Linked DNA regions of Homo sapiens. The protein of the gene in region 1 purifies or fractionates together with the protein of each later gene. This does not show direct contact. Each region holds a gene or a part of one and is shown on either strand. Other genes may lie near its edges.

Region 1 (8,129 bases):
TACAGGCATGAGCCACCACGCCCGGGGCAGAGGTAATACTTTCTAATTGATGTTATAAGGCCAACATTGCCCTAGTACCAAAAATAGACAGACATTACAGACATATCTCCACCACTGAGGACATAAGGGGAAAACTGCCATCTTTAAACCTGGAAGCAGGCCCTTACCAGAGATCTGACCTACTTGAACTTGGATTCCCAGCCTCTACTGAGAAATGAACAACTGTTGTTTAAGGCACGTAGTTTATGGCAATCTGGTATAGCAATCCTACGTAATTAAGACAGGGAAGCGCTTTCTCTACCACACATCAAGGCTTTGAAGTCTACAGTAATCAGGAGAGTATGGTGTTAGCAAAGTGATGGGTACAAAGTCCAATGGAAGACAGCAAATTCTGGAACAAGAGCATCTATTTAAGGTATGAGAAACTATGGCACAGCAGGTATTGCCAGGCAGCGATACAAATGACAGCTACTTCAACCCAAAGAACAGGGACAAATTGTTATCTCCAGAAGAATAACCAATCTTCTGCCTAACACCTCCATATACAATAATCAACTAATTACAGACCTGCCTGTTTTCATGAATTTTTATTCACTCTATTACCTCAGCTTCCATTTTGAATGTGGTTCTCTACCTTTCTCATACCAGAAAAAGTATTTTAAGAGCCTTGAGACAGTATTCATTTTTCTGTAGTCATCATGGAAGAAAGTTTTTTCCAATTTATTTTCCCTGATGGCATTTTCTCTGCTAAGCCCTGAAATTCTATTGAGATGATCCAATTAAAAACAAAACAACAGCAACAACAAAAAAACAGACCTGGAAAACTTACTACACAGGCTCTGTGTAGTACGACAGAAAAGAAAAGTAAACAAGAATTTTTTAAAGGCATATAGGACTAGATATATGTAATTTGTTTTCTGAAATCCAACTCTTTCTTGTCCCTTTAGAAACATCTTCTCTATCAATCTCTAATGATAGAATGCATTTTACAGCTAAGAAAAAACTGAACAGAAATGAGTGAACAAATCTTTTCAAGGTTGACAACCTCAGGGAGGGGCAGTGCTGACTGGAACACAGACAAGTCTCATTCAAGGGTCAGGTCAGGTCCTCCTGTCACCTGGGACATCCCCCACCCCCGTGCTGCTCACTGAAGTGCTCAGTGACTACTCCCTACCCCCAACCACCAGATACCGCACTGTGTACTTTCAGGCTCTTACACCACCTCACTGGGGTAAGTTATCTTTGACCTTTCGGATAGTTTTTCTTGCTTCACTAGTCTAACAGAATTCAAAGGATGGGAATCATTTCTATTTTACCCCCTCAATACCAGCACCTGAGTGGCTGACCAGCCATGTCTCCAAGAAATGAAAACTGGGCTTGGGGTGAGAAAACTGAGTATCCCAGGGCTTAACTTTTTACAAGAGGATACCAGGGGAATCCTCCCACCACAGGGTATCCAGCTCTTCCCCTGGGAGGCCCCAGCCCTGCATCTCAGGCTGTCCTCTGGGAGGAGTGGCCCAGGGGCTGATATTCACTACCCTCCAAGACAAGGCTGCTGTATCCACTTGGTGCCAGTCCCAGGCAGTTATCAAAGCCAGTACCAGGAAAAGATAGTGTGGGCTCAGGACTCATCAGCTGGTGGTTTCCAAAGGGGAACCTCAACCCAAACACTTCCAGATAAGGTGCCTGTGCCCAGAGAAGATAAAAGGAGAAGAGGCGCAGACATTTTTCTTGTTGGTTTTTACAGCAGAGTGGTTAAACCACCTGACAGGTGGTTATTCTCTGCATCCTCACATATGAAATATTCACAAACAAAAATCATATCTTCTAAAAAAGAATCATATATTGCTACCTGGGGAAAAAAATGACAGTTAAAATACTGTATTTGTTTGAAATACAGCCTGGGGGACAAAGAGTTCATTATGTTGCTGTGAACTGAGGACAGTGTAGAGTCTTAATTAGGGAAAAGGCTAAGGGGAACAGGGGAAAAGGCTGTTAAATTAAAGTCTTAATTAGGGAAAGGCTAAAGGGAACAGGGGAAAGCAGAAAGATAAAACAAAAAAGCTATAAATCTGCCTATCTTCATGTGCAGAGAATTTAAACAAAAGAGAATGCAGGTAAGTTACGGGTCTAACTTTGTTTTTTTTCTTTTTTCTTTTTTTTTTTTTTTTTGAGACGGAGTCTCTCTCTGTCGCCGGCCCAGACTGGAGTGCAGTGACGTGATCTCAGTTCACTGCAACCTCCGCCTCATGGGTTCAAGCGATTCTCCTGCCTCAGCCTCTCGAGTAGCTGAGATTACAGGCATGTGACACCACGTCTGGCTAATTTTTGTATTTTTAGTAGAGAAGGGGTTTCGCCATCTTGGCCAGGCTGGTCTGGAACTCCTGTACATGTCTAACTTTCTTTATGGCCCAAGACATGGCCTTCTTGCCCAGATAACGCACTTAATTCACAGACTTCCTGCTCACCATCAAACGCCTCAATTTATCAAACACCGGGGCTGACAGAGGAATGCAAGTTAAGCTCCCTGCTGCCTTGGCACTCTGCTGCCTTGGCACTATCAATCAGCCCAAGTTCCATTCTATAAAATCACCCACAAGCCTCTGCTTCTCTCCTGCAGGCTTCCCATGGCCTCCCTTGCGATGGATTTTGCTTCTTTCGCTAATAACTTTACCTACAACTGTCTTAGTAAAAATTATTTTACCCCGGCGTTACCGGCCCAGATAGCAGTCGTTCCCCTGTGACGGAGAGGAAGTCAGCTTTATGAAATGCAGGGCAAAATCTGGAAATCTAGGGATTTACTGCCAGCCCCAGGAGTTAGGGTGAGGGGACAAGATAAGCATTAGACATCTGCCTTCCCAAACCTTTGAAGACTCAGAGGGACACCGGTCCCCTTTAGGAAGAAAACAGAGACTGAGGATCCCACAGATCACAGCTCCTCACAGGCACGAACCCCACACACGAGTGGGGATTCCCTCCATGACCCTTCCGTGACCCTCCCCCAATCCTGGGGAGATGGGGGGCTGCGGGCGAGGAGCTGCCCAGACAGGGCTCCGAGGCCGGGACCGCAGTTGCCGCGCAGGGACCGGATAGGACGCCCGGGGTCCCGGCTGCCAGCTCAGCCTCACTCTGTGGCTGAGGGGACCGAGGGTCGAGCTGCGCCAGGGGGACTCGGGTCCCAGACCCCGGAGCTGACGGCGGGGGAGGCCCACGTTCGCCGCGGCCGGTTCTGGACGGTTCCAACCAGCTCTTTCCCACTTTTGGGACGCCTGACCCTGCACACGCACCATTTCCCGGCTTCCGGGATGTTCCAGGGTCCTCCCTCTGCCTCCCGCTGCCAGTGCGGGTCCCACTGTGACAGAGGCTGCCACAGACGTTCCAGGGCGTCTCTCAGCGACTGAGGCTACACAGACGTTCCAGGGCGTCTCTCAGCGAGCGACTGAGTCTAGAGCTGAGCGCAGGGGCGTGAAGACGCCGCGGGCTCTTTGAACCTGGCACCCTACTGCCAGCCGTGCGCCTGATTGACAGTTCTCACGACCCCGCCCCATAGCTCTGATTGGATAGGGCTCCAGGTCCCGCCCCCTGGGCACTGAGTGACAGAAGAAGCGATCACACAGTGCTGAGTCGAGCGGGATGAACGAGTTCCAGGCACAGCCCTTGACAGGGCAGGCTTCCTCCCTGTGCTGTCCTGATCCCTCCCAGGGAACATTTGCATTTATGCAGAATTACCTGCCCGTACTCAGCAGGCCCTTACTGCCTTTTCCTCCTGGAGAAGGAGTCACAAGTGTTTTGCAGGGAATCCCAGACTCACAGTCCAGTGGAGCCATTCCCCTGGCCTCAGAGCAGAGGGGAGCCCAAGGCCACACAGGCCACACTGCAGCAGGAGGGTGGCCTGATGTCCACCGGGCATCAGGATTTGAGGATGAGACTCTTGGCGGCAAGGTTAAGCCTTCCTCTCTCACCTTGCCTCTCAATCTGCTCATTTTCAGCCAAGGAAATAAAAACAAGTCAAGAACGGTATTAAAATATCAAATGTGTGGAAGAACTGAAATCACACGGCAGCAATAAATGAATGAATGAATCAAAACAAAAATACAACAGGAAAAAAAAAGCAAAAACTTGAACTAGTGCAGATAAGCAGCCTGCTGCCCTCATACTTCAGCAAACGTCCCATTCAGGAGGCTAAACATATGCCCAAACTTGGCAGCCACTCTTAACTGTTGAAATGGAACCCCAGAGTGAACCAAAACCTGGTGATGAGACTGGGACACTGAAGGATTTGACTCTGGGAGCTCAACATACTTCCCTGTGCCCTCTGCAGAGTGTGGAAATGCCCCCACCGTCAAGATGTGCATTTTCACCAACAGGAAAGTTTCATGTAAAGTTAGTTTAAGGGCCCGGGGCGGTGGCTCACGCCTGCAATCCCAGCACTTTGGGAGGCCGAGGCGGGTGAATCACCTGAGGTCACCAGTTGGAGACCAGCCTGGCCAACATGGTGAAACCACATCTCTACTAAAAATACAAAAATTAGCTGGGCATGGTGGCGGGCACCTGTAATCCCAGCTACTCGGGAGGCTGAGGCAGGAGAATCACTTGAACCTGGGAGGCGGAGGTTGCAGTGAGCCGAGATCGTGCCACGGCATTCCAGCCTGGGTGACAGAGTGAGACCTGGTCTCAAAAAAAAAAAAAAAAAAAAAAAAAAGGTTACTTTAAGGTACTGACCTACATAAACTGTCAAATTCATAAACCCTTTACCCAGATTTTCCTAACACATAAATGGTAAATTCTGATTCTATGTGCAGCTTCGTGCTACGTGGAGGCGTGCGCAGGCTGCTGAGGAAGCACCAAAGGGGGCTCCATTTCTCTCCCTTTGCAGCCTTCAGAATGGGCTCGGTGTAGAGTCACTGGTTCAAACTCTGCTGCCCACTCCAGGTGGCTGGGGCTCAGAAAACAATACCCCAAAAAGAAGACCTTGGAAGAAGCCTCAGAAGCAAAAGTTTTTTCTCCACAGAGGGCAGAGGAAAAACTTAGTCCCATTCTTGGGACTCTTAGTCCTACTCTTCTATCCAAGGCTAGCCTTAGAAACTAGAATCTCTCTTCTCCAAAGTGGGTCGTAGAATCCAGAACCCTTTTCCCCTAAATCCAGGCATAAAATCAAAACATACTACTCTAACTTTCCATTGTCCTTTCTGTGTAAAAACTGGCCATAAGCAAATTAACTGTCCAACTTTGTTTGACTGCAGGTCAGGGTGGCCCTGGGGCTTCCCTGGGCCACATTGGAAGAAGATGAATCGTCTTGGGCCACATATAAAATACACTAACACTAACAATAGCTAATGAGCTTAAAAATATATAGCAAAAACAAAAATTCCTAATGTTTTAAGAAAGATCATGAATTTGTGTTGGGCTGCATCCAAAGCCTTCCTGGGCCATGGGTTGGACAAGCTTGCTGTAGGTCATAAGACCCTCCATTTCAGAGTGGGTCCTGCCTCATACTGAGAAGGAAGGAATGCATGCTCAGAAAGGCCAAGAACAATCTAGACACACAGGCCTTGTTGGGTTTCCCCACTCAGTCTGTTAGCATTGGATCATACTCTTTCAATCTAATCACATTTCTACACGGCTGTCCATACATTAAGCCTAAGCATTAAAATGAACAATTTCCTTTGTATCTCTGGGTCTTCATTCTGAAGCTTCCTGGATATACGCGTTAAATAAAATTTGTATGCTTTTCCTCCAATTAATCTGCCTTCTCTCCAATTAATTCAGCAAAACATCAGAGGGCAAAAGGGAATGTTCCCCATGGCCTCTGTAAGAGTCTTCACTTGCTTCTCACCAGCACTGATGAGTTAATTGAAACAAAGACCCTCAATTCCACTGTTTGAATAAAAAATTGACAATCTTGGGTTTCTTCCTGTGTCTATATATAAAGTAGTGGAAAAAATATATATAAGATATTTAATAGGGATTTGGAAACTGGTAAATGGACTGGGCATGGTGCCTTGGGCCTGTAATCCCAGCACTTTAGGAGGCAGGGGCAGGAGGATTGCTTGAGCCCAGGAATTGGAGACCAGTCTGGGCAACACGGGGAGATCTTGGTTCCTCAAAAACAAAACAAGGCCAGGCGCGGTGGCTCACACCTGCAATTCCAACACTTTGGGAGGCTGAGGCGGGCAGATCACAACGTCAGGAGTTCAAGACCAGCCTGACCAACATGGTGAAACCCCGTCTCTACTAAAAATACTAAAAATTAGCTGGGCATGGTGGTGCGTGCCTGTAATCCCAGCTACTCAGGAGGCTGAGGCAGGAGAATCGCGTGAACCCAGGAGGTGGAGGTTGTGGTGAGCTAAGATCGCACCATTGTACTCCAGCTTGGGCGACAGAGCGAGACTCCGTCTCAAAAACAAACAAGCAAACAAAACCAACTGGTAAATAATTATTCTGTTGAGAAACAAACATGCTAACAAACTATTATTTTTACCTTAGCAAACTGTTGTGTAAAACAACTAATTAAATGTGAGCTCTCCTCTCTCCTTGGCTTCAGTCACTCCCTGACCTTCATAGCTCAGGGTTGACATCATGTGCTCTGTGCCTGGGGATGGACATGTCCCATTTATCCATCTGAAACCCCCTCTCAACCCCAGCCCACACCATTGACCCAAACAGTCATATCTGTATCTAAATCCTAAGTATTGTACAAATACATTTTCCTTTTAAGCAAACTGGCCCAGGTTGAATTCACCTGTGGTTCTCATGCCCACAGTTTCATTTATTCATTTGAAACAGTCTTCTCAGATAGTAATGTCTTGGGTGAGGACACATCCATTTTATTTGCTTCTGTTCTTCTTAACCTGTGTCACTACCTGCTCAGTGAGGGCACAGACAGAATATTCTAAGTGACTATCAGCTGCTGTAAATACTGGAGGTCTCAGCACAACCCTGAGAAATCCGCACCAGAGAAAGGATGTGTGAATAATATTAATGTCACCCCTTACCACAACAGTTAGCTTATTTCTCTCTTTTTTTTTGAGACGAGCTCTCGCTCCATCACCTACACTGGAATGCAGTGGCACCATCATGGCTCACTGCAGCCTCAACCTCCTGGGCTCAAGCGATCCTCCTACCTCAGCCTCCCGAGAGGCTGGGACTGCAGGCATGTCCCACCATGCCTGGCTAATTTTTGTATTTTTTTGTAAAGATAGGGTTTCACCACGTTGGCCAGGCTGGTCTAAACTCTTAGACTCAGATGATCCACCCACCTTGGCCTCCCAAACTGCTGGGATTACAGGTGTGAGCCACGCTGTCTGGCCATTTTATTTTCCTTTCTGGAAAAAGGCTTTTAAAAATGGTTTTCCGGTTTTCTGGGGTACTTTCATACACAGCAATACAGATGATAAAAGTAAACATAACACCATTCAGTTTGGTTTCATTTATATGATTTAACTTTTCAACAGTTAAGAAACCAAAACATTCTGTCAACCTTAATTGGATTTCCCTGAATCTAAAAAGTGCCAGGAAAAAAATTCTACAAATAAAAACATGTAAGAGTCACTGAGGTGGTATGAAGAACCCTGAGAAGGTGACATTTAATGTGAGACATGAAATAATATATTAGTGTAAAAACTCAGGGCAAAGCCAGGTGCAGTGGTTCATACCTGTTAACTCCGCCCTTTGAGAGGCCAAGGCTAGAAGTTCAAGACCAGCCTGGGGAACAGAGTAAAACCACCATGTCTACCAATAAATAAATAAATAAATAAAAATTAGCCGAGCATGGTGGCATAGAACTGTAGTCCTAGCTATTCAGGAGACTGAGGCAGGAGGATCACTTGAGTCTAGGAGGTCAAGACTGGAGTGAGCTATGATCACACTGCTGCACTCCAGCTTTGGCAACAGAGTGAGACACTGTCTAAAAAAGAAAGAAAGGAAGAAAACAAACAAACAAAAAACCCTCAGGGCAGAGGATTCAGGGTAGATGGCAGGGTACCAAGCATAAAGAAGCTGTCTCCCCACCTAGACAACAGTTTTACTGGCAGAATCTGTCTGATGGAGCTATTTTATTTATTCTTATTTTTTGAGACAGAGTCTTGCTCTGACGCCCAGGCTGGAGTGCAGTGGCACAACCTCAGCTC
Region 2 (7,482 bases), on another chromosome or scaffold:
GTGGCACATGCCTGTAGTCCCAGCTACTCGAATGGATGAGGCAGGAGAATTGCTTGAACCTGGGAGGCAGAAGTTGCAATGAGCCAAGATCACTCCCCTGCACTCTAGCCGGGGCGACAGAGTGAGACTCTATCTTAATAAATAAATAAAGTTTAAGGTGCTTATTTGGATGCTGCTAGTCCTTGGGGCTTTTCCTAGAGCCTATTGGTTTGGACTCAGCCCACATAACTCTCCAACCTTAAAGATTTTGGAAGGAAACTTGATGGCTGGTAATAGCCCTGAGTGATTTTCATCCTGAAGTTTGAAGTAAGGGCATGGATGACAACCATTGGAAGAGTGGAAAGTGTGTTTGTTCTAGAGGTCTCATCCAGGTAAGGGAAATGTTAAAACTTCTGCCTAGGCGTGCTTGGGTAGATAGAAGGTTGTATCTGAAAATAAGTGCAGAGCAATTGAGCTGAGACTGGTCTCCTTTCCATCTCGCTGTTGTCGTGACCAGGGTTGTCATGGTGCTTGAGTGACCTTGTCCCTGATCTGTTGGGCTTGTGAAACATACTTGGCTTGTCACTGATTTTGGATTTCCTCTTCTGTACCCTGATGAATATCAGATAACATCTTTTGGACTGGCACGTGGTATTAAGAATGACAGGTGCAAGGGAACCAAGTCTGGCCATGTCTGATACAGAGCACGTTGGGTATGTCCATCTTCTGGGCCAGCAAAGAACACAGGAGGTCACAGAGGACACGGTGTTTTATAGCTCTTTGCTCACTCTTTCTACCGATTAACTGCCAGTCTTAACTGTTAGAAGGAAAATAGGAGAAATTGTTTATGTTGCTGCCCCTTTAAAGAAAAAAAAAATACTGGGGGTTCCTGAATAGGAACAGAATTTCAGGGACTACTTTAAGAAGTAATCTTGTCTTTTTTATGATTGGGTAAGATTACGAGACAGTCTGTGCCCTTGGTTGACTAGGTCTGTTAGCCTGTTCCAGCCATGGTCTCTCTACATTCCTTGATGCAGCTTAGCCACGAGTTTTGTCACAGTTGCCTGGACATGGGGCATCTGGGCCCCAGACTGTGTCTGGACTGCCATCTCATCTTCAGCAGCGGAAGCCCTCCTCCCCTCCTCAGCCTGTGAGGATTCAGTGTCCCAGGGAAGACTCAGTGCTGACTGGTTAGCTGGCAGAGCCTGAGTTTGACCTTATAAATAGTTCTGATGACTGCATGGGCTTGTCACTCTCACTCCAGCTTAGAGCTGGCAGGAATGAGTTCCTCGTACAATCGGGAGCATTCCTCAAACTAGGCTCCACACCCATTCACTTGTTCATTCATTCAGCAAACACACATATGTCAAGCATTAATATAATCACTGTATACGAAGCTCAGCAATTAAGAAGCACCCACAGACCTGGGTTTGAATCTTGGCTCTGGCAATTCTTGGTGACCCTGTGCAAAATCTCCCTGAACCTCAGGGTTGTTACCTGCAAAGGCGGGTAGGGTAGGGGAAGGGAAGTAGTAATAGATTATCACATAGGAATATCATAAAATTTACCTGAGATAATAGCATGTTCAAACTATGCAGCACAGAGCTTGGCAACTACTGTGTTACTGTAGAGCTTGATAAAAGTTAGCTGTAAGCAAAGTCACCTAAGTGGATCCGAGATGATTCTTGGCTTTAGAACATGGGAGCCAGGTAAATAATTATGCTACCGTGTTCTGTGCTAAAATTGAGACTTGGTCCTTCATTCATTGCAGCTGGTCTTTTGCTTGTCTCTTTTAAAGATCTGCCCCTTCTTTCTCCCCTTGAAAACGTGATAGAACCGAAGCATAGTTCCCACTTGTGCCCACTCCTAGAAAAGAAGTCTGCTAAGCTATAACATCAGTCTAGGGGAACTCATGTCGCCTTAGTTCTCTTGAGAGAGGTCTGGGGAAATGGAGCTTTTCCTCTGAGAGTTTCCCTTCTTAAGTGGTCAGGGATGCAGCCTAGCAACTTCTCCTGCTAAGATTCCTGTGACATGGGGTGAGAGGGGCTGGCCAGGGACTCTTGTAGCTGGAACAGTTTAGAATTCCAAGCCCTCCCTCCCATTGGCCTGAGAAAGGAGTCAGGCTCCAGAGCTCATAAGGTAGTAATTGCCCCAATTTGGGAGCTGGGCTGTTGTGGAGCCTTCGCAGCTACCATTTTCAATCAGGAAGCCTGTCAGCTTGCAGGCCTAATTGATGTGGGTCTCCAGCCCCGAATAGCCCCCAACCCCTAGTTCCTCCACCTCAAAGTTTGACCCCTGTTGTCTCTTTTGTTTCTTCTTTTTAAGTTGGTGCCAGTGATGTGATTTTTGGGAGCTGCGGAAAGTTGACCGTAACCAAGAGCAGCTGTTAAAAAGAGCCAATTCTCTAGCTTCCTGACGGTTGTCTGCCTCCATTTTCTGTTGTGCGTTTTTGATTTAGCAAGAAGCAAACATCCTAGGTGCCCTTGGGCGCCTCTTACGCCCATCCAAGCAGACTTCATTCTTTCACTGCTCGTAGGCATTCCCATTCTTGCTCACAGATGAGCGGACTGGCTGTTAGCGCTCCCTGACACCCTGTTTCCCCATGCGGAATAGGACTCCCCCATCATTCAGGTTCGAATGAGGGGAGGGGCGCTGTCTGGGACCCAACTGGGGATAGCCTGGCTGGGACTTGCTGCAAGCCCTGACTTGGCCTATGGGAGCTCCCCCTCACCTCTATGCACAGCTGAGGATCAGAGCGGCAAGCAGAGCCGGAAACAAAAGACTGGGAGCAAACCTCCCATCTAGCTGAGAGGCAGTGACACAGAGGTGCTGCTGCATAATTTATCACCGGAGGTTTTCTGGAGCCGGGAAGCTCCTGGCTCCAGGCAGTGCCTTTTTGCGGGAGAGGGACCCTCCCTCTGTCTGGGTGTAGGGCAGAGCAGGTACAGAGAAGGGTATCCAGAGAGACACCTGATTAGCATGTGAAATAAAGAAGCTGCAAGGTTGTAAGTGCCTCCAGGGATCTCTCCAAGCTCGGCAGCTCCACTTCCTGTCACGCCTTGGGGGAGGTGGGGAGGGGTAGTGGCCTGCAACCACGCGCTGGCATGGATGAGGACAAGAGACAGCTTCTCTGTTGAGTTGACTGTAGCCTCCTTCTAACCAAGTGGAGAGGCCAGGTTATGGCATCCACAAGCCTAGCAAATAGGAAAGGGGAGCCCCAGGTTTTCCACCCTCCTTCCACGGGCAGTTTAAACAATAAGTTTCAACTACAGGCTCCCAGAGCCAATAAAAGCCAACAACTCTACAATGTATCTTCCCCAAATGAGAATTTCTGCTCTTCTAGGAATGATCTCCTCCAATGACAATTTTTGCAAATTGTGGGATATGTGGATTTACAAATTGGGATATGTGGTTTAAAAAATCCAAATGTATTTCTGGAGCAGTTAGCATTTTTGAGAGCTTTGCTGTGTCCCTGGTACTGTGATAAGCATTTAGTATATGATATCATATTTATTCCTCACAATATCCTTATGAGGTAGGTAACATTAGATTCCCGTCTTACATTGGCCAGGTGCGATGGCTAACGCCTGTAATCCCAGCACTTTGGGAGGCTGGGGTGGGTGGATCACTTGACGTCAGGAGTTCGAGACCAACCTGGCCAACATGGTGAAACCCCATGTCTACTAAAAATACAAAAATTAGCTGACGTGGTGGCACATGCCTATAGTCTCAGCTACTCAGGAGGCTGAGGCTGAGGCTGAGGTGGGAGAATCGCTTGAACCTGGGAGGCAGAGGTTGCAGCGAGCCAAGACTGTGCCACTGCACTCCAGGCTGAGCGACAGAGCGAGACTCCGTCTCAAAAAAAAAAAAAAAAAAAGAAGATTCCCATCTTACAGATGGGAAACAGGCTCAGAGCAGTTTCCTGTCATACAAATAGTGAGTAACTGAGCCAGGATTCCAGGCTATCCCAGAAGATCTAGGTTGGGAAGGTCTATATTTCATCTTGGATTGACCTCTCCTCTGTTTTCAGACATCTTCTCAGGGAGTCTGAATGCATAAGGAATTACTTCTCAGGTGCTTCTTGAGGGAGAGAGACTTTATTTTTATTTATTTATTTATTTTTTTTTTTTGAGACAGGTTCTCACTCTATTGCCAAGGCTGGAGTGCAGTGGCATGATCATAGCTCACTGTAGCCTCGAACTCATGGGCTCAGGAGAAGAGAGAGACTTTAAAAGGTTTCCAGAAAAATGTGGTTTGTTGCTCCCTGAACAGCCATAAACAAATGTGGTTTGTTACTGTGTGGACCTTCTGATTTGAGATGTAGGGGGAAGGGAAAGCAATATTTTGAGCAGCCCTTCACAGAGCACAGCCATGTTTGAGCCCTGTTGGATTTGTGAAATCTGTTGACAGCTTCCAGGTAGGGCAGGTAGAATTTTGAGGATCTATACAAAGATAGCCTGGCATTGGCTACATTACTAGGTTGAGAGAGAGGACATATCCAGATGAAGATAATGGGATTAGTACAAATAACAAGAAAAACAATAACAGCTGTCTAGTATGAACCTCATACGTATTATTTCATTTAGACCTCCCAGCAACCCTATGAAATAGATACTGTTATTACTCCTGATTTACAAAAGTGGAAGCTAATCCATTTCTTAATTGCTCTGTACTTTAGTTTCTGGATTCTCTCTCCTGTCCTTGGCTCCTCAGAATTAGTTGGTGATAAATTAGGCAAAGATTTGCTGGGTGTGGTGGCTCGTGCCTGTAATCCCAGTGCTTTGGGAGGCCGAGACAGGTGGATCACTTGAGGCCAGGAGTTTGAGACCAGCCTGGTCAATGTGGAGAAACCCTGTCTCTACTCTAAAAATACAAAAATTAGCCGGGTGTGGCGGTACACACCTGTAGTCTCAGCTACCTGGGAGGCTGAGGCAGGAGAATCGCTTGAACCCGGGAGATGGAAGTTGCAGTAAGCTGAGATTGTGCCAGTGCACTGCAGTGTGGGTGACAGAACAAGACTCCACCTCAAAAAAAAAAAGGGGGCAAGGATAAAGGATACCATGTGCCTCAAGCTCTTTCAGAGAAAGGCAATAAAGCAAGACTCTGCAGTTATTCATGCCACCAACTTAACCCATGGTGGTGGTACTGCTGCCTGGTACACAGTAGGGTTTTCAAACATCTCAAGTCCTAAAATAGCAGGTCTTAATCATGGAGTGGTTGGATGTGACAGTTCTGGGGTAAGCCAAATCTTTAATAGTAATAACAAGAGCTATTATTTATTGAGCACTTAGTATGTGCCAGGCAGTAATGCTAAGTCCTTCTTATGAATTAACTAATTTATTTCTCATAACATTCCTGTAAGTTAGGGGATTTTATTATCCCAATTTTCCTGATGAGAAAATTATATATAAAGAGGTTAAATAGCTGCCCAGGGTCAGACAGCTAGGAACTTAGCAGAGTCAGGATTTTTATCCTGGGGAGTTTTGTTCCTCCGTGCTTAACATTATGTTCTTCTGCCTCATAACTTTGGAGGCTAACCATTAAGGACTTCTTTTCTGTATGTAACAGTAGCAAGAGAGGGCTGAACTTGCTTGGACCCGCAATCATGTGCCCGACATGTCCCTTTCGAAACGGGCCACTGAGGAGAAGACTTCACCTGGTAGATTTTCCAAACCAACCAAGTTAAGCTGGCCTCTAGGAATCGGGAATAAAAGGGACCATGGGACAGAAATAAGTAGAAACATGGCGTGTCAGTTTCACAGCCGGATAATACAGCTGGTGAAAGGAACTCTTGTAGGAGAAAGGAGTAAACAAAACCTGGGTAGGACAAAGAGGCTGCCTTGCAAACGAGAAGATTCCTGTTCTCTCCAGCACTGGTTAGGTAGGAAATAACTACTTTTATTTATGATATTCTGAGTCTCTTTTCCTTTGACTCCAGCTTTCACAAGATTCTAGAGGAGTGTTTCATTCATTCATTCATTCATTCAACGAACTTGTATTTATTGCTGCCAGTGGATAAAAGGAGAGAGGCATATGCTAATATGCTTTAGCATATTATAAACGAATGGTGATTCCTCCTTTTTTTTTTTTTTTTTTTTTTTTTTTTTGAGACGGAGTCTCGCTCTGTCGCCCAGGCCGGACTGCGGACTGCAGTGGCGCAATCTCGGCTCACTGCAAGCTCCGCTTCCCGGGTTCACGCCATTCTCCTGCCTCAGCCTCCCGAGTAGCTGGGACTACAGGCGCCCGCTACCGCGCCCGGCTACTTTTTGTATTTTTAGTAGAGACGGGGTTTCACCTTGTTAGCCAGGATGGTCTCGATCTCCTGACCTCATGATCCACCCGCCTCGGCCTCCCAAAGTGCTGGGATTACAGGCGTGAGCCACCGCGCCCGGCCGATTCCTCCTTTTCTCATTGTAATCCTAATAGCTTCCACACTGGGGTAGCCACCAGACTCCAGAACACTCACAGGGTACTCCTTAAGCCTTCTCATCTCTGGTTCAGCTTGAAAAAGCTGGTCTGTAGCTGTGAGTAGTCACGGTCTACCCATGTGCCTCCATGTGACAGATGTGGTCCACCTTCAGCTGTGCATTCTATGGAATGGTGGAGAGCAGTGCCGCTAGACACTTGAGTGTGCATCGGTGTCACCCGGAAAGCTTACTGAAAGTCCAGACTCTGAGATCACACTAAGAGAAGAATACTAGTTTAAGTGTCAGAATGGGGCTGCCATCCTGGCTCTCCTACTTACCTTGTGACCTTGGCCAAAGCGGGTGCCCTTACCTGTTGGATGGGCCCTGCAGTCATTGCTCAGGATTATTGTAATGATTCAATGAGAATGCAAGTGCATATGCAAAAGTAGCTCACAAACTAAAGAGAAATTGCAAAGTATAATTATTTGTTATGGGAAGCCCTGTTCCCTGGACCAACAACACTCGAGTGCTGATTCAAAAGTGCTGGGACGCCAGACTTTCCCCACTTCATTACTTTACCTTCCGGCGAGGGAAATGAATCTTTCTTTACCTTAGCAGTAACCAGAAAGAGGTCACTGTTTGAGACCCATAAACTCACTGCATATTTGCTATTGGAGAACACATAAAAGAGAGGGACCCAGAAGTTGTAAATTCCCCCTTTTGACCTTGGGGTTTTGGAGATTCTCACAACAGTAATACCATTTATTGGGAAGCAGTATAATCACCTGCCTGGGTGTGAATGCTGGCCTCAACCCTTAGTACTTGTGCAATCTATCTACAGACTTAACCTTTCTGTGGTTCATTGTCCCCAGCTGTAAAGTGGTGATAATATTAGGTTGGCGCAAAAGTAATTGCAATTTTTGTCATTAAAAGTAATGGCAAAAACCGCAATTGCTTTTGCATCAAACTAATAATAACAGTACCACCTCCTAGGGTTGTTGAGAGCCTTCAGTGATGTAGCATATGAAAAGCACTTAGAAAAGTACTCGGAGGGCACCTGGTAAGTATTTAATAAATGATGGGGCCAGGCGCAGTG

What was found.
Region 2: the proteins of ZNF563 (region 1) and LRP4 purify together in Homo sapiens (affinity purification with mass spectrometry; 2 studies listed by BioGRID and IntAct, with this or other methods). This does not show direct contact.

Annotation. Positions count from the first base shown.
Region 1 is NC_000019.10:12,330,193-12,338,321, forward strand, and holds the start of ZNF563 (zinc finger protein 563), read right to left. Parts: upstream 3,442-8,129; 5' UTR 3,291-3,441; coding exon 3,288-3,290; intron 1-3,287. UniProt on the Homo sapiens protein: May be involved in transcriptional regulation.
Region 2 is NC_000011.10:46,908,216-46,915,697, reverse strand, and holds part of LRP4 (low-density lipoprotein receptor-related protein 4 precursor), read left to right. Parts: intron 1-7,482. UniProt on the Homo sapiens protein: Mediates SOST-dependent inhibition of bone formation. Functions as a specific facilitator of SOST-mediated inhibition of Wnt signaling.